2 separate regions of the Homo sapiens genome follow, and region 2 is linked to region 1. The links come from fine-mapping of genetic effects on gene expression. A gene starts in region 1. The other region holds a variant in brackets. All regions are shown on one strand. Distances are between the middles of the regions. Region 1 holds the start of SOX13 (SRY-box transcription factor 13). Region 2 overlaps SOX13 (SRY-box transcription factor 13).

The links.
Region 2: its variant is fine-mapped to the expression of SOX13 in whole blood (TOPMed, PIP 0.94).

The regions. Positions count from the first base shown.
Region 1 is chr1:204,068,069-204,079,671 of GRCh38, reverse strand. It overlaps SOX13 (SRY-box transcription factor 13), which reads right to left and starts at 6,557. Exons shown (of 14, transcript NM_005686.3): 1 at 5,961-6,557. RefSeq lists enhancers at 315-1,243, 1,244-2,172, 3,800-4,491, 5,186-5,878, 10,504-11,005.
Region 2 is chr1:204,093,010-204,104,612 of GRCh38, reverse strand. The region is part of intron 1 of SOX13 (SRY-box transcription factor 13); the gene reads right to left. Among named protein-coding and RNA genes, the nearest start is that of SOX13, 26 kb to the right of the region's middle. RefSeq lists a cis regulatory region at 11,148-11,161 and an enhancer at 11,082-11,226. The variant G/C (reference allele first, on the strand shown) is at 5,659.

The DNA.
Region 1 (11,603 bases):
GTAGCTACAAGGTTCTATGCTGTGAGGCCAGGCTCGGTGGTTCTCACCTGTAATCCCAGCACTTTGGGAGGCTGAGGTGGGCGGATCACCTGAGGTCGGGGGTTCGAGACCAGCCATGGCCAACATGGTGAAACCCCAACTCTCCTAAAAATACAAAAATTAGCCGGGCGTGGTGGCGCATGCCTGTAATCCCAGCTACTCAGGAGGCTGAGGCAGGAGAATTGTTTGAATCCAGAAGGCGGAGGTTGCAGTGAGCCAAGATTGCACCACTGCACTCAGGCCTGGGCGACAGAGCAAGACTCTGTCTCAAAAAAAAAAAAAAAAAAAATGTTCTATGCTGTGGACCACACCACAGGCTGGACAGAAATCTTTTTTTTGTTTGTTTGTTTTTTGAGACGGAGTCTTGCTCCGTCACCCAGGCTGGAGTGCAGTGGCTCGATCTTGGCCCCGGGTTCATGCCATTCTCCTGCCTCAACCTCCCCAGCAGCTGGGACTACAGGCACACGCCTCCACGCCCGGCTAATTTTTTGTATTTCTAGTAGAGACAGGGTTTCACCGTCTTAGCCAGGATGGTCTCGATCTCCTGACCTCGTGATCCGCCCGCCTTGGCCTCCCAAACTGCTGGGATTACAGGCGTGAGCCACCGTGCCCGGCCCAGAAATCTTTTCCTAGGGGAGCTGCAAAGGCTTCATCACCATGGGGCTTTAAGCTGGGTCCATGGCATACAGCAAGTGCTCTTAGGAGGGAACTACCATATCTCTGCTCCTCAGAGAAAGTATTTGCATTTTTTAAAAAGCAGTCACTCTTTATCAGAGAAGCTGACAGAGGTCGGAGGAACCCTGCTGAGCTGGCCTATAGCAATCTCTGAATCAAGTCTTCCCAAGAACTAAGGAAGGGCCAGTCAAAAGGGGGGTAGTCACCGAGGCAAAGACCACCATCTAGAGCATGCCTTCCTGCTTCGGGGCAGGGAGCTGACAGGAGAGGGAAAGCAATCCTCCATGGGTCTAGTTCCCCATCTGGTAAAAGGCACTGTGATGGCCTCCCTGGCTGACACATCCGGGTTCCAGAAAGGGGACTAGCAAAGGGTGAGGACCGCAACGAGTTCAGGCAGGAGCGAGCCCTCTTAAGCAAACACTGGGCACAAAAATAACTCCCATTCAAAGCACGATTTACTGTGTGCCTGGCCGGCCCTCCCAGCACAGAGCCCTTTTCAAACACTCAGCTTCACCCCTGAATGTGGCTGGGGGAGGGGGCTCAGGAGCACAGCTGCATTTGAATTCCACTTTTTCCGGTGGTGTCAGCTTCCTGGAGACTTACCCAGGGGAGCTGCCCAATAAGGACCGATCTCAAAGCACCCCCAGAGAGGAGAAAATCTTTGTAGAATCCAGTGTCAGCCTCTCAAGGGCAAGGACACCTAGATCCCTTGGTGGAATAGGCCTAGCTCAACCGACACTTGTCTGGCAACAGAAAACCCCAGAGCCCTTACCATTCATGGAGCACTGCTGCCGCAGACATCATCAGCCATTAGCCTCCCAACAGTTCTAAGAGGAAGGTATTGGCCGGGGGCAGTGGCTCATGCCTGTAATCCCAGCACTTTGAGAGGCCGAGGAGGGCGGGATAATTTGAGGTCAGGAGTTCGAGACCAGCCAAACCAACACGGTGAAACGCCGTCTCTACTAAAAATACAAAAAAATTAGCCAGGTGTGGTGGCACACACCTGTAGTCCCAGTTACTCGGGAGGCTGAGGCAGGAGAATTGCTTGAACTCAGGAGGTGGAGGTTGCAGTGAGCCAAGATCACACCACTGCACTCCAGTCTGGGCGACAGAGTAAGAGTCTATCTCAAAACAAACAAACAAACAAGCAAACAAACAAACAAAAGTAATTCACGACCATTGTAGAAAAGTGAAAAAACAAATGGAAGATAAAGAAAGAAATTAAAACCATCCATACGTCCAGTATCCAGAGCTAACCTCTGTAAATATTCTGATGCATCCTCCCAGATTCTGTCCTTGCGTGTGTGCATGATAGCCATGTGTATACTTACAATTCTCTGTACAAGATTAAGATTGTACTCTGTAGTTTTATATCCTGATTTTTTCACTTCTTATGTAATTTTCCAGGTTATAAACTGTTCTTTGTTAACCACGTTTTTGGGAGGTTTTGGGGGATGGTTTGTATACCCACCTGGTACTAAATTCAGAAAGGACAAAAGGGTCTACAGCAAAAACAATCTTTTCTCCATCCCATCCCTCAGCCACCATTTCCCTCCCTTGGGGCAACTATGATTACCGTTTCTTGTGTCCCAAATAATCTTTTAAAATCATAGAGCAGATCATGTCACTCCCCCACTTAAAACTCTCTGATGGATGCATCGCCTGCAATAAAATCCAGGCTTCTAACCAGTATTACCAGGCTTTGGCTCTCCTCTGATTTCTCCAGTCTCTCCTCTCCAGCCACATAGCTGTTGCCCCTGTTCTGGCCTCAGGGGCTTTCATTTGCTATTCCCTCTACCTGCAATCCCCTGTCTCCAGGTCTTTATGCAGCTGGCTCCTCAGCCTTCAAGGCCTGGGCTGAGCTATCCTCTCCCCCAGGGTGGCCTTCACTGGCCTCCCAATCTAGGGCCACCACTGCCTGACCTACATATGTTTTCTATCACATCACCCTGTGGTATTTCTTTCCCATTGCATGTCATAATCTGATAGTCTTGGTTACTTAAAAGTATTTACTGTCTGTCTCCCCACAATAGAAAGAAGCCTCTTTGAAGGCAGGCACGCTGCCTGTCTTGTTCTCCCCTGTTATCCCACTGCGTAGCACAGGCCCTGGCACATAGCAGGTGGTCAACAATTTCTGTTGAAGGAATGAATGGGGTGACTGCAGTGCCAGTTGTCATAATGACTAAAAACTGCCAATTGCAGGATCTCCAACATGAAGAAGCAACCTTCTGGCCATCCTCCCCCATGCCTGGGGTGGAGGTTGGAGGGTCTGAGAAAGGAGGACAGGAGCCTGTTGTCCAAGGCAGTGTGGCTGGGCAGCAGCACCCTGTTCTTCCTCCTGGTTGCTCAGCTCGCCCCTTACCTGTGCTATGCATTTGCAGAGTCCTGAATCAGACAAGGAACTTGTGACAAACCCAAATTCCTAGAAAATCCTCCAACTGCAAGTGGAAAGTTGGAGGTGACACTTTTGCCCCTCACCCCAAATCCCACATCCAGTCTACCCAAGCAGCTGTGCTATTCCAGGTTCCCAAGTGAGCCCAGCAGCAGGAGACACAGACACTACCCAGGGAGCAGGGCTCCTCCTGGGACAGTCCCAGCCCATTCCACCTGACTCTTCCCCTGGGCCCCAGACACCTGACAGGCTCTTTGCTCTGGAAATTCACCCTGCCCCAGAGACACAAATGCACATCCAATCCTGATCCAGCAGCCCAGGCTGAGGACGCTCAAGGGACACCCTTTTGGAGACAATTCCTTCCTGGGACCTGATTTCCATGGAGAGAACACTGCAGTTGAGCCAAGATTGATTTTTAAGAATGAGGAAAGGAGGGAATGAAATGCTTTCACAAAAGTTGTGAAGGGAGGGAGAAAGGAAGGAAACAAGAAAAAGAAAAAAGACTCGAGAAGATGGCACTAGACAAGGAGTAAGAAGGATACGTTTGATCTGAGGGGCTGGAATCAGGCAAGGGTGGGAGAGAGTACAAGATCTCCTCCTCTCCAGAAGTGGGCAATGTTATAATTGATTAGTTGAGCACAATCACCAAGTGCTCTTCTGGGCTCTGTACAAGGTCAGTTAAGTAATAATGGCAATAATAGCTCATATTTACCTAGCACTTATTATGTGCCAGGCACTGTTCTCAGTTTCACTTTATTAAGTCTTTTAATCCTCAAGACAACCCCATGAAGCGTTCATATTAACCCTATTTTATGGCTGAGGAAACTGAGGCACAGAGGTTAAGTTAAATTGCCCAGAGTCACACCGCCAGTGGCATCCGGGATCTAACTCCAGCTCCAGGACTCTTAACCACTAGGCTATATTTGGCCCTTAATGATCCAGAGGTAGGTGGGTCCCTACCCTCCTGGAGATCATGCCTTCCAAACCAGTATCCCCCAAACGATCACGACATGCCAGTTTCAAAGTTGGGTGCATAACTCTGCCCATTTCGCATGCGGGGAAGTCCAAACCCACGCTGCTCATCGATGGGGAACTGGAATCCAAATGTGCTGAATCCCAGCATCTTGTGAAGCGCTTTCTAATGAAGCACAGTGGAAACAGGGGTCAGCCTCAGGCCCTGACTCGCAACTGCGCCGAGGCGCAGATTACGGAGTCAGGGAGCCGGGGAGCCAGGGAGCGGGGGAGAGGGAGAGCGGGAGGTAGCGGGCTGGCGCCGCGTCGGACGAGTCCGAAAGCACAACCGCGGTAGGCAGGGAGACAGCCCCACGCCCAGGGCAGAGAGCAGAGGGCAGAGAGCGGCCTGGCTCGACGGAGAGCGCCGCCCGGCTGGAACCGAGCTTGCCTCCCTGGACTCCAAAACGAGCAGAGTTATGCACCCATCTTTGAAACCGGCATGTCGTGATCCTTTGGGGGATACTGGTTTGGAAGGCATGAACTCCGGGAGGTAGAGACCCACCTACTTGGACTGCTGAGAGCCAAGTACAGCCTAGTGGTCAAGAGCCAGCAGCATCGTCTCTGGCCGTCTTTGGCCAGACCCCTTCACCAGCGCCAGCGCCAGCGCCAGCGCCGAGGCGTCCTGCCCGGAAATTCCCAGAGAGTCAAAGCAAACTTCCCAGGAAAACTCTTCGGCTTCCTCCAAGCCTCTGTCACCGAGGCGGCTGCCAAGAGCGCCAGCGGAGTCTTTGCAGCTGCCGCGGGCCCTCCAGGGCGGGAGCCGCCGCTCCAGCGCTCGGGGTCCTCCCGGAAAGGTCCAGGGCTGAAGTTCAAAATTCACTTCCCGCCCAGGCCCGGCTCACCGCCCCGCCCGGTACTGTCCGGCAACCCCCACGTCTCTTGTCCTCTCCAGCTCCAGTTAAGTCCTGGAGCGCCTCCAGCCTGAAGACCCATGCGGGCAGCTGAGCGAATCCCGCGGGCGATCCCTGCGCGCCTGGGGACGGGAAGCAGCCAGAGCCGGCGCACACACACAACCTTGTGTGTGCGTGTGTGTTTACGTACGGAACGCGCGGGGTGGGAAAACAATGGCGAGCCGCTGGGAACTGAACGACTACCCGCTCCGCATCTCCCTACCCCTAGGCGCGATCAGCGTTTGCAGCGGAATCGGGATGAAAAGGCTCACCTACGATATCCCAGGGCGGGAGGTGGGGGTAGCAAGAAGCAGCCTGCGGTGGGGGTGGGGGTGGGACAGGAGCAGCCGGAGCAGAAAACAAACAGGATGCCGCGCTGGTCTGGTCCGCTGGGGAACGACCCTGAAACCGTGGCAAGGGGAGCGCGTCTGTCCCCCAGCACCCCACGCAACCATGGTGGAGGAGCTCTGCGCCTCGTCGCAGGCACCTGAGCCCCACGCAGGACGCGCGCAGGTCGCTTCGGCTTCCCGCTGAGAAATCCTTAAACTAGGCGCATAGTCGGGCTGATGAGAAAGACCTAGTCCTCTGCGGTCGGCGAGGAGCGGGTTGGGGGTGCACCCTAAGCTCGACCCGCGTGGTGAACGCGCGCGCGCGCGCGCGTACACACACACACACACACACACACAAACACACACACAGCCACGCACTGCCTTAGAGGCTGCCATCCCTCTCCACAAGGACCCAAGTCGGCCAGGGAGGAGCCGCCACTGCCCAGCGTTGTTGGGGGTAGGTGAGGGTCCGTCTCTCCTCGAAAAACTTTGCACAGGGTGGAAACTCGCAGGGAAGAGAGCCGGTGGGTGCCCAGAAACGTAGGGGCGCAAGTGTCAAACTTCAGAGAGCTGGGGAAATGGGCGCGACGGCGCGATCATGGCGGGGAGGGGTGCACTTACTACTCAGCCAGGCGCCGGGCTCGGGGCTCGGGGCTCGCGGCTCCGCGCTCCTGCTCCTCCTCCGTGCGGTCCTCGCGGCTGGCAGCCTAGGCTTCCCGCTCACATGCCCCCGCGACGCGGCGGGCGGGCCGGGTTGGGGAGGCTGGGCTGGGAGGGGGCACGCCCCCCGCCGTCGGCCGGGGAGTCGCTGCGGACCCACGGCCACCCTGGGTCCGCGCCCCACGGGGCCCGCCGTCCCGGGCGGCGAGCTTGGTTCCGGCCGGGCGGCGCCCTCTCCGCCGAGCCAGGCCGCTCTCTGCCCTCTGCCCTCTGCCCTGGGCTTGCGGCCGTCTCCCTGCCTTCCGCGGTCCTGCTCTGCGACTCGTCGGACGCGCAGCCGGCCCGCCCTCCCTGCTCTTCGGCTCTCACGCTCTCCGGCTCCAACCTCAGCGCCTCGGCTCGATTCCGAGTCAGGGCCTACGAGGCTGACCGCTGAGCTCTGGGCTCAGACCTGGGCTCGCCGGTTCTGGGCCCGGGTTCCAGGACCCGTGCTCACACAGTTCAGTTCCAAGCCGGGACTGGAGAAGGGCGCTCGCGGCTCGCTGCTGCGAGGCGACTGGACAGCCTAGAGGAGAAAGAGGGAGGGAGACCGAGAGCGCGCAGGGGGAGGAGGGAGGGAGGGTGGGGACTTGCAGAAGAAGGGAGGGACAGAGAGTTTCCTCCTCCTCCCTGCAGCCGGGTCCATCCAGGCATCAACAGCTGGAAACCTCTGTTGGAAAGGGGAAAGCTAAGGTTTACGGGCGGCGGGGAAGGGTGGGGGTGGAGTGAGGGGGTGTAGAGAAGAGAAGAAAGAAGGATTCTGCCCGCTCCCACTGCCCAGGTATGAGGGTCGCTACAGAGAATCTTCACTCCTTAAAGCAAGACCTAAGAAGTTATTGGTCCAGCTCCAAGCCTCCCAACCCCTCCAAACAGATAGCCTGGACTCGGGTTTTTTAAAAACCCCATTTCTCCGGACTTCCCTTAAGAACCTGATCTCTGCCGGGCGCGGTGGCTCACGCCTGTAATCCCAGCACTTTGGGAGGCCGACGGGGGCGGATCACGAGGTCAGGAGATGGAGACAATCCTGGCTAACACGGTGAAACCCCGTCTCTACTAAAAATACAAAAAATTAGCCGGGCGTGGTGGCGCGCCTGTAACCCCCTACTCGGGAGGCTGAGGCAGGAGAATCGCTTGAACCCGGGAGTGGGAGGTTGCAGTGGGCCGAGATCGCGCCATTGCACTCACTCCTGCCTGGGCGACAGGGCGAGACTCCGTCTCAAAAAAAACAAAACCTGATCTCACCTGTAGCTAGACGGATTCCTGATATCTCCAACCACTCCCTAATCCTGTCATTTGCAGCCTCTCAAATAAATCTTATTTTCTCCTGTCCCATTATATGGGAGGGTGGGGGAGAATGGAGAGTTGGTTTCCTTTCATTCAACGTATTTATCAAATGTCTACATATGACCGGGCGCAGTGGCTCACGCCTGTAATCCCAGCACTTTGGGAGGCCAAGGCAGCAGATCACCTGAGGTTGGGAGTTCGAGACCAGCCTGGCCAACATGGTGAAAACCCCTCTCTACTAAAAATACAAAAATTAGCCGGGTGTGGTGGTGCATGCCTGTAATTCCAACTACTCAAGAGGCTGAGGCAGAAGAATTGCTTGAACCCAGGAGGCAGAGGTTGCAGTGAGTGGAGATCGCACCACTGCACTCTAGCCTGGGTGACAGAGTAAGACTCTGTCTCAAAAAAAAAAAAAAAAAAAAGTCTACCTATGCCTGGCTTACCGGGGTGCTGGGGACACGAAGACAAATGAGACGGTGTCCTGCCCTTTCTGGATTCTGATTTTGTAAAGGAATGGGTGAATATACCATTGCAGTGAAGTGGAGAGGGCTAAGATAGGGCAGGCAAATGGGCACAGGGCCACCAAAGACACTGGGATATGGGGACTGGAACTTCTTGGGGGAGGTGGCATCTGAAATGGGTCTTGGAAGGACCTGTGGGTGTAGGGCAGATTAAAGGAGTGACAATCATGGACCTACTAATAAGTCTATGCCCACAGTGTGGGTGGCCAGCATGTGTTCAAAGGTGATGGTCAGCAAGGCTCTGAAGGCCTTCTAAGGGCTCATCCTTGCCCACTGCTTTGCCTGGCTAACTCCTTTTATTCATCTTTTAGGTCTCAGCCTAGACATCAACTTTCCCTGAAGCCTTTCTTGATGGCCATATCTGGGCCAGGTGCCCCATCTGTGGGCTCTGGAAAAACCCCATTTGTAAATAATATGGTAACCATTCATTTGTCTGTCTCCGCCCTGGACTGTAAGCTCCACAAGGGCAGGGATGTATCTCTCCAGTGTGCCTAGCCAGAGATTGGGAAAGAGCAGGCCCTTCATAAATACTTATTGATCAATACTTGTTGATGGAAGGAAATGGGGAGCCACTGAAGGATTCTAAGCAAGGTCTCAGATGGCATCAATCTAGCTGGAGGTAGGAAGGAGGCCAGTGACCAGACAATGGCAGTGGCCAGGGTAAAAATGATGCAGGCCTGAGCTAAGCTGGGAGTAGGGGGAATGGAAAGGAGAAAACAGGTGGGTGTAAGAGAGTGGGAGAAGCCAACATTAAAGGCTTGATGTTTGGATAACTATGGATGAAGCCATCCTAGAAATCATGAAAGGGTTACCCAAATTGCCGGGCGCGGTGGCTCGCGCCTGTAATCCCAGCACTTTGGGAGTCTGAGGCAGGAGGATCACCTGAGGTCGGGAGTTTGGGACCAGCCTGACCAACATGGAGAAACCCCATCTCTACTAAAAATACAAAATTAGCCGGGCGTGGTGGCTCATGCCTGTAATCCCAGCTAATCAGGAGGCTGAGGCAGGAGAATTGCTTGAACCCCGGGAGGCGGAGGTTGTGGTGAGCTGAGATCATGCCACTGCACTCCAGCCTGGGCAACAAGAGGGAAACTCTGTCTAAAAAAAAAAAAAAAAAAAAGGGTACCCAAGTGCCACCAAGACTTTCCTCCTCCCAGACAACATGCCTGTGTTTTCCATATATCTGGTTGTTTTTCTCTGGCCCCTGATCATCTTCAGGGGGGCAACTTGATTGTGGGTACCTCCCTGCAGCTGTCCTTAGCAACAGCAGATTAAGAGAGGAAGAGCAAAGATCAGCCCTTCCACTCACTGCCACCAAATTAAGATATAAAGTGTCTCCCTACTGGGTCTTAGGCACAATACTGTTTTCCTATATGGTATCTATTTGTACCTTATCCCAGTTCTGTGATGTTGGTGTCATTATCCCCATTTTATCTTATTTTTTAATTTAATTTAATTCCATCTCTTTGCAAGTCCCTGAGTACCTGGAATCCCATTTTAGAGATAAGAAAAATGAAGCTCCAATTAGTGAGACAGGAAGCTATCTGACTGAAGATTCTAGATTTTCTCTACTACTGCACCATTTCCCAGGAACAACTATCAAATTTACATGATGTAACCCAGTCAGCCACTCCTTGAAACACTCACTTCATGAGTCCACACTTTCTTGAGTCCTCCCACCTCACTGGCTGCTCTTTCCCAGCCACCCTTTTTTATGTTCCCTCCTCCATCCTGGTCTCCAGGTGGGCATTCCCTGTGGGCTCTCTCCTACACCCTATTTTCCTCCTACCACATCTCCCTAGGTAAAATTTTGTCCTTTTCCATAGCTTTAAGTACCAACTATGTGGTGATGATTCTCCCAATTATTTAATATCCAAGACTATTATCCAACCACACACTTGATGTTTCTACCCCAGGGCCTCACAGACATTGTAACCGTAATGGGTCCATTGCCTGAGGGCCTGCAAGTCAATACACCAACACCGAGGGTTGCAACAGAAAAAGAATTTTAAATGCAAGGCTGAACAAGGAGAGGAGAGAAAACCTCAAATCTGCTTCTCCGAAGAGTTGGGGGCTAGGGATTTTAAGGGGTTTGGAGTGGGCCGAGGTGTGGGGATCACTGTGGATGTCCCGTGACGCAGAGTCACGGGACAGGGAGATGAAGAAACTGCATTCTCATGCTGATTACGCTCCTCTGTGAGGGTCTTCAAACTGGTGGCATCAGCCATTCTGCTGGAACTCAAGAGCTAAAAACATCTTAAGCAAATCTTAAACAAAAGCCTTATGATTCCAACGTCAGTGATCCTATCTATAGGAACAATGGGGATGCAAATCGATTCTTCAACAAAAGCCTTATGATTCTAACATCAGAAATCCTATCTATAGGAAAAATGGGGATGCAAATGGTCAGTATCTGGTTCTATGGAACTTTTAGCAACAAGGAAGTGCGCCAAAGTGCAACCTAATTAATGCTTTTTCTTTCTTTCTTTCTTTTTTGAGACACGGTCTTGCTGTCACCCAGGCTGGAGTGCAGTGGTGAAGTCACGGCTCACTGCAGCCTCAACCTCCTGGGCTCAAGTGATCCTTCCACCTCAGCCTCCCAAGTAGCTGGGACTACATACACAGGCATGAGCCACCCTGCCTGGCTAATTGTTTTTCATTTTGTGTAGAGACAAGATCTTGCTATGTTGCCCAGGCTAATCTCAAACTCCTGGGCTCAAGTGATCCTCTCGCCTCGGCCTCCCAAAGTGCTGGGATTACAGGTGTGAGCCACCGCACTTGCCTATTAAGGTTAAATTATAACAGTATTTCCGCCCAGAACCTAGCATGTAATACTTGCTAACCCTGTGAGGATGGCTTCCACATCCTAACCCTAACATTGAACCTTTAACCATCATCCCCAACCCAGTACCATCTTCTTTCCCATCCAGTAAATGGTACTACCACCTACCTAATGGCTCAAGTCAAAAACCTAGCCATCATCTGTGATTGTTTCTCGCTCATCTAATCAATTTAGTGAGTCACTGGCCTATCTCCAAAAATATATCCCAATCCATCCATTCCTGTCTTTACCACCCCACCCTAGTCCAGGCCACAATTACCTACCACTCAGCCAGACTACAACGGCCTCACCTGCGGTGACATCATTTCACTGAGGCTGCCTACATCTGCATGACTTTAATATTTGTTCCAGAAATTTCTTCCCCAGGAAGATAAGACTGTAAACTGGTAAATAACTTCATTATTTCCTTCAGGAACTTCCTGAAAATCAATTTATCTGAACAATAGACTGCTCAAACAGCCCCCTTCTCGGGACAATAGTTTGCTTAACTGGGCAAACCAGTAGCTTATCAAACAATTGTTTATTCTTCAAGACCCTCCCTTCACCATGTCCTCCAATCCTAAACTGTTATAAATTTTGCCCAGTCCCAATCAGATCCCCATATTGAAAGATCTGCCTTGAACTAGACTTCAAACCCGATAAAAATCTTTACACCTGTTAAGTTCTTCCCCAAACCCTCCTCTTCCTAGAGTGGGCACCTTTTCATCCTCTTGTCTCAACAAAAATGTCTCTTCTCTCATCTTCCCCTTTCCTCCCATATAAAATCATCCTCTACCCCATCCCACCTTTATTCTGTTTCTCAGCCCTGTTTGCTTCTTTCATAGCACTTACCACAATTGCACTTGTTTTATCTGTTTTCTGTTTTCTTGTGTTTTTTTTCTTTTTTTGGAGACAGAGTCTCGCTCTGTCACTCTGGCT
Region 2 (11,603 bases), 25 kb before region 1:
CATGCAGCAGGGGTGGGGCAGGGCTTGAGTCCCAGGGGAATGCCACTTCCTCTGAAAGCCCCCAGAGAGCTGAGAACCTCAGGCTGCCCTAAACAATAGGCCAAGGCGTGGGTGCCCAGAACAGTGCCCCGGTGCCACATCCTGCCATTCTTCTCACAGACCACACCCTGCCACCCTTCCTGGCTACACCCGATCCTATCTCTAATGTTTACTCAGAGCTGGGAGCTGGACTGGCTGCAGGCTTGGGACAAAGCTTTCCTGCGAGTCCCTCTCACCCTTTCCAGCCTCTGTGAGCCCTGGGGGGTATCAGATCCAGGGCACGGCCGGTCTGGTCTAGCCCAGCTCAGGGGGGCCACAGCCAACACTCCCTCGGCTGTTTCCAGGCTGGTCAGGGTGGCATTCACCTGGTAGAGTGGCCAACATCAGACAGAGGCTGGGTCAACTCCCAAGCATGGGAGAAGAGGCACTTCCCCACAGCACCTCAGGTACAGAATCACAGTCCAGCCTGAGCTTCTGTGGCTGCCGGGACTCAGCTGACCCTGGCCCAAGGGCACAAAGGAAAACAGTGGCCAGGGAGAGACTGTAGCTGTGATGTTCCCACCTGGTCCTCAGGCCTCAGAGGCACCTGAGTCTTCTCCCAACCCAGTGAGTGGGTCGAGAAAGAGACAGATGGGACTGCTTGAAAGCGCCATTGAGGCTCCCAGTGTGATGTGTGCCTCCAGAAGGTCCCAAACCGAGAAGAGGTCAACAGTGTCTCTAGGAGGCCCTTCTCTGGAGGCCTTCCTGCCTCTAGAACCCAAGCCTGTCTCCAGGTTCTCCTGCACCCCAACAGTGCTAGAAGGCAGGGGTAGGCCTCATCCTTGTTTCCCAATGGCAAGGCCAAGCCTGTGTCCTGGACAGGTGAGCACATCTGGCTTCCTGCAGGGACAGTGCCCAGCCTAGGGCTGGGAGATGCAGAAATTGTGCAGCTGAGGCTGACTGGCCATGTCAAAGGCCCCTTGGGGGATAGCCCTGAATACTGACCAAAGGAATGGGAGGCAAAAAGCAAGCATGCAATGCTACAGCACTTACTTGGCTGCAAGCACTAAGTGAAAGGCTCTTCATTCACATTCCTGCTTAATCCTCACAAGAACACTACAAAGACTAAGGCTCGGGGGCTAGAACGTCCTACTGAGGGCCCAGCAGAAGTAGCATTTGAACTCAGGCCTCGCTGATGTCTAAATCCACATCCTTTCATTTATCAGCTGATGCCCTGGCCACTCTCCTCGGTGCAAAATAACAGGCTCTGGTCCAGCAGAGATAGAATGGCCACTGTCTTCACCTCTTACAGGATTGCAGTTGTTTCTGACTTGAGTCATAGCCAAGGAAAACTTAGTCAAAAGAAACCCAGGCAGCTCTGGCAAGTTGGGGGAAAGACTTCACCTCTCAAAACCCCCATTTCTTCATGTGTAAAATAGAGATTCCAAGAACTATTTTGTGAGTAAGAGATAAGGTATAATTACAGAATCTGGTACAGAATATATGTTCAGGGAAGGAGGTAAGGAGAAAGAGCCCTAAAGCAGGAAGGAGTCCCTCTCCCTCCCTGCCCCCAGGGCAAGGGGGAGAAGGACTCACACCCTATTCTCCTCCCCAGCCAGCCCAGCTCTTCCGGAGGCAGGTGGGTGGGTGTGATGACCCAGCATTGCTGGGAGGCATCCTGGTGTGGCTAATGGAAAAAGGACTTTGTCACATGGACCTGTGTCTGAAGACTGGCTCTATTATATACCACTAGATGTGTGGCCATGGGGAAGTTTCAGTTTCTCTATCTCTAAAATGGGAACAAATAACACCTACCCCATAGAGATAGAGAAGACTGAATATGATGGTGTTTGTGAAAATCAAAAAAATGTTTGCTCCCTGACCCACCGCCACCCCCTTCCCCCACATGGTCAAACAAGCAGAAGACATGCACCTGCAGAACACCAGGGCCCGCCACCCTCTTCCTCCTCCATCTGCTCCATGTAGGTCTCCCTCCCTAGCCTAGGTTATCAGTTTTCTGAATGCCCTGTTGATGTCCCCAACCACCCTGGAAGCCCCAGCAGGTGCCCCACAGTGCAAACAGGCGGAAAGGCTACAAATCTGCCAAGGAAGCCCCACATTCGCAGCGCCACCGCTTATCTGGCCAAGCCACGGTGCCTTCCCTTCCCCGGCTGATGACACAAAAGCTCTGCAGAACTCATGAGCTCCCTCATTTCCTCTGGAGCCCACAAGGGTGAAGTGCTATATCATTAACCCTTGCGTTCTCCTGCCAACCCCAGAGGGAGAGGAAGGTGGGGACCATAGGGATGACTACAGACAGCGGAAAGGACAAGCGCAACTAGTCTGCAAACAGCCATGTTTACCCGCCAGGCTGATGAAATCTCACCTTTGCCAAACACTCCTTCTCCCAGTACTGGGGTGGGCTGGGCATTATCGGCTTTTGCTTTGTGACAAGTCTAAGCCATGTAGACTAAGCCCTCATAGTACATGGTGAAATGAGGCTCTGGGAGACACGCAGCATTGGTTCAAACCCAGCATCCGTCTTAACTAGCCAACTAGTTTAACTCTCTCAGCCTCACCATGTTGCCCAGGCTGGTCCTGAACTCCTGGGCTCAAATGACCCTCCTGCCTTTATCTGTAACTGGGGCAAATAGTAATATATACTCACTAGTGGGGTTTCAAAGAGTAAACGAGATAACACAGGCAAAGCCCAGTGCCTGGCACACAGCCGTGATGAACAACTGTAATGGGCATTTTACCATTGTCATCTAGATTAGGAGGTGAAGGGTGGAAAATTGGGAAGCAGCTGGGCTCTAGGTAGCCCAGTGAATACTTGAGACTTAACCTCTTTACACCTCAGATTCATTGTCTGAAATGGGGGCTAACAATACCTACCTCTTATGCTTGCTAGAGAACTGATAAGTTATTATATAGAAAATACTTAGCCCAATGCCTGGCACAAAGCAGATTGGCACTTAGTATTGTGGTGGCTGAATGAAGGACTGTGTTTCCAGGAAACCTCTACCAGCCAGACCACTCAGCCCCAAACCAGTATGTTTCCAAGGCCTCCTGCCACTTTTTTTTTTTTTTAAATAAAGAGGGAATCTCGCTATGTTGCCCAGGCTGGTTTGAACAGCTGGGCTCACGTGATCCTCCTGTCTCAGCCTCCCAAAATGCTAGGATTATAGGTGTTAGCCACCGCGCCCAGCCATCTAAGGCCCTTCTTAAATGCATTTCAAATATCAGCCTCTACCCATCTGTGAGCCCACAGCCCACTCCCAAAGTGGGCACTTCCACACAGCATCCTGGGATCCCAAGGGCTCAGGAAAGGTTTCTCTCCCCTTCCCACCTCAGGCACCCAACTCATTGCAGAGGCAGGAGAAATGGGTCCACGATCCAGATGGGTAAGTGGTACAAGAAAGGAAGAGAAGTCAGTAAATTTCATTCACCCAGAAAGCCACCAGGCAGTGTTGACAGGAGCACAGCCTTGAATGCAAACAGTCAGCAAACAACTTTGGCCTCCTCCTCTCCTCCCTGGGATTGTCTCCCTAACACTCCAGAAAAAATATATACCTTGACAGAAGGTCTAGGGGCTCCCTAAGAGATTCAAGCATCCAGCTCCCAGCTTGGCCAGCCCTTGAGGAGGTGAGCAGCAGCTCTATGATCATGGCAGCCAAGGCTCTAGGCCAGACTGGCACACCGGCCTCCCGTTGGCACAGCCCGCTTAAGCCTAAGGTGTCCCCCATCCCAGGGGTTCTTGGTGGAATGACACTCATGCCTCATGTAAGCCTAATCACCACCAGCTCCCCTAACACAGGCTCGCTCATCGGACACCCCAGTTTAGCAGCTCTTCCTCAGGCAGCATTCATTCTTCCAGTGAACAACGCGTTCCGTTCTTTTTCTCTCCAAAGGCTGCGTTTCCTCTCCCATTATCTACCCTATCGTCAGCCAAGCCCGCCACTAAAGCAAGTTTTCTTTTTCGATTTTGTTATTTCATGGTCCTCTTTATTTATGGGTGGCTGTTTGTTTTTCCTGGCTTTGGCGCCTTTTCAATAAGGGCAGGGAAGGAAGGGGAGAAGCAGCTTAATCTACTATAATGCTCATCAAACAATCCCCAAAGCAGCCAGCTTTCACCCCAATCTGCCCAGCACCCCGCTTTCCATCACCAGCACCCTTTGGAAACTGAGGCAGGACCACATCAACCAAGACTTGGCAAAGGGGTAAGATGAAATACAACCCAGGAAGGGATCCTGACACGTGGAACCCACAATACTAATAATAGTAATGAATAATGGTGACATTCAAGACTATTTAGCAAGGGAGTCATGGGCACTGACCAATCCACTGAGGCTCTTGGGACAATCAGATGAATTGGCAGTTGCCAGCCACAAACAACTGGCTGAGTCACACTAGTATGTGGTGAAAGACCCCAATTATGGCTAACTTTACTTTTTAGAGATGGGGTCTCACTCTGTCACCCAGGCTGGAGTACAGTGGCACAATCACAGCTCACTACAGCCTCTCAACCTCCCAGCCTCAAGCAATCCTCCCACCTCAGCCTCACAAGTAGCTGGAACTACAGGTGCATGCCACCATGCCCAGCTAATTCATTTTTTATAGTGACAGGGTCTTGCTATGTTGCCCAGACTGGTCTTGAACTCCTGGCCTCAAGCTATCCTCCTGCCTTGGCCTCCCAAAATGCTGAGGTTATAGGCATAAGCCACCATGCCCAGCCTATGGCTAACGTTTATTGAGCATTTACTATGTGCCAAGCACTGTTCGAATCACTTTTACTTATATTAATTCATTTAATCTTCATAATAATCATCTGAAGTAGATCATATTATCATCTCCACTTTACAGATGAAAAACCTGAGATGCCGACTGGGCGCAGTGGCACACACTTGTAATCCCAGCACTTTGGGAGGCCGAAGTGGGAGGACTGCTTGAGCCCAGGAGTTCAAGACCAGCCTGGGCAACATGATGAAACTCCATCTCAACAAAAAATACAAAAATTTGCCAGGTGTGGTGAGGCATGCCTGTAGCCCAAGCTACTCGGGAGGATGGCTTGAGCACAGGAGGTTGGGGCTGCAGTGAGCCATGATCATGCCACTGCACTTCAGCCTGAGCTACAGAGACCCTGTCTCAAAAAAAAAAAAAAAAAAAAAAAGCCAGAAAAAGACACTGAGACACCAACATGATTTGAGCCCAGGCAGTCTAGCATCAGAATCCACCTCTCAGTCAGACCATAGGAATCAACTACTTACATGCTAAGCATAATCTATAAGGATTTAGCCTTTTAATTCCTTCATTAGTCCTGTGAAATAGCTACTATGAGGACACAGAGGCCTAAGGAGGCTAAGCCATTGCCCAAGGTCATAGCCAGTGAGTAGTGACCAAGAAACTGAACCCAGAGACTGGCTAATGAGTCTCTTCTTTTAAGTGTTGGATTATACTGGCTTCTCTTCTACTAGTCAGAGGTCCCAAGAGCCATGGAAGTTTATCTCCTGGAAACCCCACTGTCCCACCTCTGCTGGGCCAGTGCTGCTCCCACAATGGAAGTCAAGGGAACCAGGCCCTTGGCCCTGGTACGGATGATGCAAGGGAAGTAATAGTCAACCTGGGGCAGGAAAACCCCTG[G/C]TTTCACAGGCTACAAGCTTCGCTCACTCCTGCCAGCTATGCCAAGGGACCAGGTGAACATGGGTGAAGAGCTCAATGGAGCCTGCCTGCGCCACTTGCAGAGACAAGGTGACTCAAGGCCAGAGTCCTACCCACGGTATCTTCCCCATGAATGAGGCTTCTCATGAACAAAGGCAGCATTCTGGAGGGCTCCAGGCTGCCCAGACCCTGACTCCCCTTACATTCATCACCCCTCTGTGTTCTGGCCAGTCCTCCCCACCACCTAACCCCACACCTCCCTGTTAGCTTCGCATTCATTCCTGAACTTTCAATAGCATCAAGCAGAGCTGAGTGTTCAGTAGACCCTGGCAACACATATGCCTAATGAATAGTCGTAGTCACTCTTATTTTATCAGTTTTTTCCTAAATATAAAAGGAGTGTGTGCTTACTGTAGAAAATCAGCAACAACAACAACAACAACAACAAAATTTTTTTTTTTTTTGAGTCTCGCTCTGTCACCCAGGCTGGAGTGCAGTGGCACCATCTCAGCTCACTACAACTTCTCTGCCTCCCCGGTTCAAGCAATTCTCCTGCCTCAGCCTCCCGAGTAGCTGGGATTACAGGCATGCGCCTCCACGCCCGGCTAATTTTGTATTTTTAGTAGAGATGGGGTTTCTCCATGTTGGTCAGGCTAGTTTCGAACTCCTGACCTCAGGTGATCTGCCCGCCTTGGCCTCCCAAGGTGCTGGGATTACAGGCATGAGCCACCGTGTTCAGCCAATCTGCAAAATTTTAAATAACATAAAGAAAACAGGTTGGGCGATGGTGACTCACATCTGTAATCCCAGCACTTTGGAAGGTCGAGGTGGGTGGATTGCTTGAGTTCAGGAGTTTGAGATCAGCCTAGGCAACATGGTGAAATCCCATCTCCACAAAAAATATGAAAAAATTAGCCAGGTGTGGTGGCACACACCTGTAGTCCCAGCTACTAAGGAGGCTGAGATGAGAGGATCACTTGAGGTTGAGGCTGCAGTGAGCCATGATCACACCACTGCACTCCAGCCTGGGCAACAGAGCAACACCCTATCTCAAAAAATAAATTTAAATTAAAATTTAAAAATAAGAAAACAATTTTAAAAATCACCCATTTCACATCCATCCAGGAGGTGGCCATTGACAACAATTTGGCCTATTTCTATCAAATCTTTTTTTCTGAAGGTGGTTTTGTTTTTCATTCATAAGCAAGTTTTTTTTTCTTTTCTTTTCTTTTTTTTTTTTTTTGAGACGGAGTTTCGCTTTTGTTGCATTCAGGCTGGAATGCAATGGCGCAATCTCGGCTCACTGCAACCTCTACCTCCCGGGTTCAAGTGATTCTCCTGCCTCAGCCTCCCGAGTAGCTGGGATTACAGGCATGCGCCACCACGCCCAGCTAATTTTGTATTTTTAGTAGAGACAGGGTTTCTCCATGTTGGTCAGGCTGGTCTCAAACTCCCGACCTCAGGTGATCCACCCACCTCGGCCTCCCAAAGTGCTGGGATTACAGGAATAAGCCACTGAGCCCGGCCTCATAAGCAAGTTTTTATATTTATTTTCTCCCACTTAATAGTACACATCAGCAGTTTTCATGTTACCAAAAACTGGATATTAAAAATTATTCATAAAGCCATATTTAATGGCTGCACATCTTCCACTCTATGGCTGCATCATGATTTCCTTTATCCCCATGCCCCGTGGTTGAAATGATTCAACTCTTCCAATTTCACATTACTGAAACCTCCTCCTGACCCCTAGGGACATCCACCCTCCCAACACCTCTGCCAGGTCACAGCCACTCTGCTGCTGTGACAGGAGGGAAGGCAGGGCCCCTAACAGTCAGTGGACCTCGCCCCTGCCCTCTCTTGATGGACTGGAGACAAAGGGGTTTAGGACAGAGAATGGAAGCCAGGATGGGGCTAGAAAGCCTGGGCCCAAGGGGCTCTGCAATGCAGAGGCACGTATCAGTGTTTCTCAGGCCTTGACTTCCCCCTTAAAAGATAAAAAGCACAGTGGATTTTCACTTCATACCCAAGAGGATGGCTATTATCAAAAAAAGAAGGAGAAAGAAGAAGAAAAAGAGAAGAAAGAGGAGGAGGAGAATTGGCAAGGATGTAGAGAATTTCTGATGGGAATGTAAAATGAAAAGTGGTATAGCTGCTGTGAAAAACAGATAGAAGCCTGGGCAACATGGAAAAACCTCATCTCTACAGAAAATACAAAAATTAGCTGGGCATGGTGGCTCATGCATATAATCCCAGCACTTTGGGAGTCTGAGGTGGGTGGATCACAAGGTCAGGAGTTCGAGTCCAGCCTGGCCAACATGGTGAAACCCCATCTCTACTAAAAATACAAAAATTAGCCAGGTGTGGTGGCGGGTGCCTGTAAACCCAGCTACTTGGGAGACTGATGCATGAGAATTGCTTGAGCCCACGAGATGGAGGCTGCAGTGAGCCGACAACCCACCACTGTACTCTAACCTGGGCGACAGAGCAAGACTCTGTCTCAAAAATAAATAAATAAATAAATACAAAAATCAGCTGGGCATGGTGGCATACACTGTGGTCTCAGCTACTTGGGAGGCTGAGGTGGGAGGATCGCTTGAGCCCAGGAGGTTGATGCCGCAGTGAGCTGTGATCATGCCACTGTACTCCAGCCTGGGAGACAGAGTGAGACCCTGTCGCAAAAAAAAAAAAAAAAAACGAAAGAAAGAAAAAGAAAAGAAAAGAAAAATATGATGGCGGGTCCTCAAGAAATTAGATATAGAATTACCATATGATCCAGCAATTCCACTTCTGGGGATATACCCCCAAAACTCATAGCAATATTACTCACAACAACCAAAATGGGAAACAACTCAAGTGTCCATCAATGGATGAATGAATCAACAAAGTATGATATATACATGCAATGGAATATCATCAGCCCTAAGCTGGAAGGCAATCTTGACACATCTACGATGTAGACAAATATTGAAGACATTATGTTAACTGAAATAAGCCAGGCATAAAAGGTCAAATATTGTATGTGTCTACTTATGTGAGGTACTTAGAACAGCTAAATTCATAGAGACAGAAAGTAGAATAGAGTTACAGGGCTGGAGTGAGAGAGGAAGGGGACGCTATTGCTTAATGGGAACAGAGTTTCAGTTTGGGAAGATGAAAAAGTTCCATGGACAGATGGTGGTGATGGTTGCAAAACAATGTGAATGGACTTAATGCCTCTGAACTACACATTTACAAATTGTAAATTTTACATTATGTCTACTTTAATCCAATTTTTTAAAAGATGGAGAGAACAAAAAACTGCTAATAAGTTATGCTTTCAGGGCATCTTTAATCTGCAGATGGACAGAGGCGAGACCATAAACATAGCCTCACTGACTGGTGAGGGGACAACATGGGGGCAGCAGGGCTGGAGAGCGGCTGCCTTGGGAGAGCCTGTGTTCACAAGGCCATAATTAACATCCCTAATTGAAGTGTCTAGAAGCAGCAAGACCCAGACAGTGCCAGACCTGCCCGACCAACTAGAAGGCCTTCCCTCACTGCCTCTAGAAACAATTAAAGGCTTCCATGCGCAACCCAGAGACAAGGTGTATTTAGGATTTCTCAGCAGGGAGTTCAAGGGACCCAGACGACAAGAAGATGGGGATAGAGAAAGAGATTTAGTCTTCCCCTAAAATCAGTTCCTCGACTTTCCTGGAAATCCTTTCCCCTCGGATGTCCATCTTAGAGTTGGCGGTTTCAAGGCAACTGAACTGACGCCTGTTTACAGAACAGCTCTGCCCCTGCCTTGCCGTACAACCCTGGGAGACTTACTGTACGGCTCAGGGCCGTGGAAGGAGGTTTACTCCTGATGCCCTCCCCGCCTGGAGAGGACACAGCACAATGGTCCAGACTGAAGCTCTAAACCAGAAGGTCTGCGCTCATAGAAGGGAGTGGCAGGACGGGGGCCACTTGGGAAGAGGAAGAGGAACTGGGCAGCCTTCCCAGTTTGCAGGGACTCATCCATTTGAGGTCACAGATGCTGGCTTCTGTGGGCCACCCAAGCCATCCTTTTCCTTTTCAATGAATGAATGACAGGCAAGCCCCAAAATCCCACTAGCCCTAAGGTTCATTTGATGCTTCCATTTTCTGATTTGGTGCTTTACTGGCAAAAATTATCCCAGTTCCCACTTAACCAACAACACATCACAGGGTTTGCTGTGTCTACAGGAGCTGCCCGTGCTCCACGGTGTGATTAAGAGTGCAGGAAGAGCTGATGGCAGCCCGCCCCAAGGGAGCCTTGGGGATTTTCTATGGAGACTGAAAAAGCCACCGGCATCTTTGTTCATCTCTGTCCAAAGAGGGAGACAGATGAGCATCCCTTCCTGGCCCTCTCTCTGCCCGCATTGGGCCATTAGAGCTCCCTGCAGTGCTTCCCTTCCCCCACTGCCTGCAGTCCTGACCCGAGGGAAGGGGGTCAACAATGGGGTCACTGAAGGTGCCCAGCTCAAAACCAGCTCTGTTGCTTAGGAAGAATTTAACCCTGTCCCTGCTGGCTCATGACTCTCCACCTTCACAGATCTACCTGTATGGAGGGGAAAAAATAATTGCAGAGAGGGTCTAGAAGGGCCCAGGTGAGAGGTCTGCGTGTGCGGTGGAAAGAGCAGAGGGCTCGAGTTTGAGCGTCAACTCTGCCACAAACTCAATGTACAATCTTGGGCTCATCTAAGTTCTCTGAGTCTCATCGTTCCCATCCGTAAACTGGCAGTCAAAATACATGTACCAGATCCCTAGGAGACTCGGCACAGTTATTTTCTAAATGTCAACACCCTTTACACACTTGATGGTTTATAAAGCCCCATACATGTGTAAGGGATTTTGATGCCTTTAACTCACTATGGGGCCTGGGACAAACCACTCAACCTTTCAGGTCTCAGTTTTTCCATTTGCACATGGAGTGAATTATTACTTCTTCTCTGAGAGACAAAAGTATAGGCAGGGGAGGGCTCCCAGGCCTTTGATGCAGTGGAAATAATAGTGTTGCTAAGCTTCTGATTTCCATGTTCGAGTTGTAGCCCAGGGCAGGTCACATATGGAAGCCCCTCATCAGAAAGATAATGACAGTGCCTATTTACTGAGTGATCACAAGCTAAGCACTTCACAGGTGGATTTTCTTCAGGGACAAAACTCATTGTACAGATGAGGAAACTGAGGCTTACTTGAAGACAGAATTCCACTTTCGGTATGCCTGATTCCAAAGTTCCAAACCATAGCACAAGATATTTGAGAAGAGGCTACTTTCCACAGACACTCCAAATCCCAATTAACCCTCTCCGCCTGCTGGGCTGGGTGCCAAGGGGACAGCCAGTGACAAGGCTTCTCTGGGCCTGGATGCCACCCGCCACCATGGTCAGAGGGAGGGGTGGCCCCCCACACCCATGCCACCGCCTTCACTTCCTGTCAGGCCCCACAGGCATCATCCTGAGCACCCAGGGTCCAAAGGTCAGGTACAGGCTGTTTATTATTATAAATTGCAATTCACCCGCAGCTGGGTTTTGTGAATACGGTGGCTTCATGCCTCAAAGCAGCCCCTCAAAACTATATGTAAATTCCATAGATTTCACAGAAATCAATCCTGTGTAGTGTAGAACTGTCCCCTTAGTAACCAGTTAAGGTGGGAAGAAAAGGCAGTGTGCTCTGAGCCAGACTGTCATTTCAGTCACACCTGGGAACGCCCTACCTACAGCTAGCATTCGAGAAACAGTTTCTTTCCTTCTCTAGGCTGCTCCCTGGGGCCAGCATAGCGAGGTCCATGCCCCAGTCCACCTCCCCCACGTCCCCACGTCCCTATGCTGATACACTTGGGACAGCAGCTCTCACCCTTGCTTCTTTGACTGAATGGGGGTCACTCCAAAAACAGAATAATCACAGCAACAAATAGCCAACAC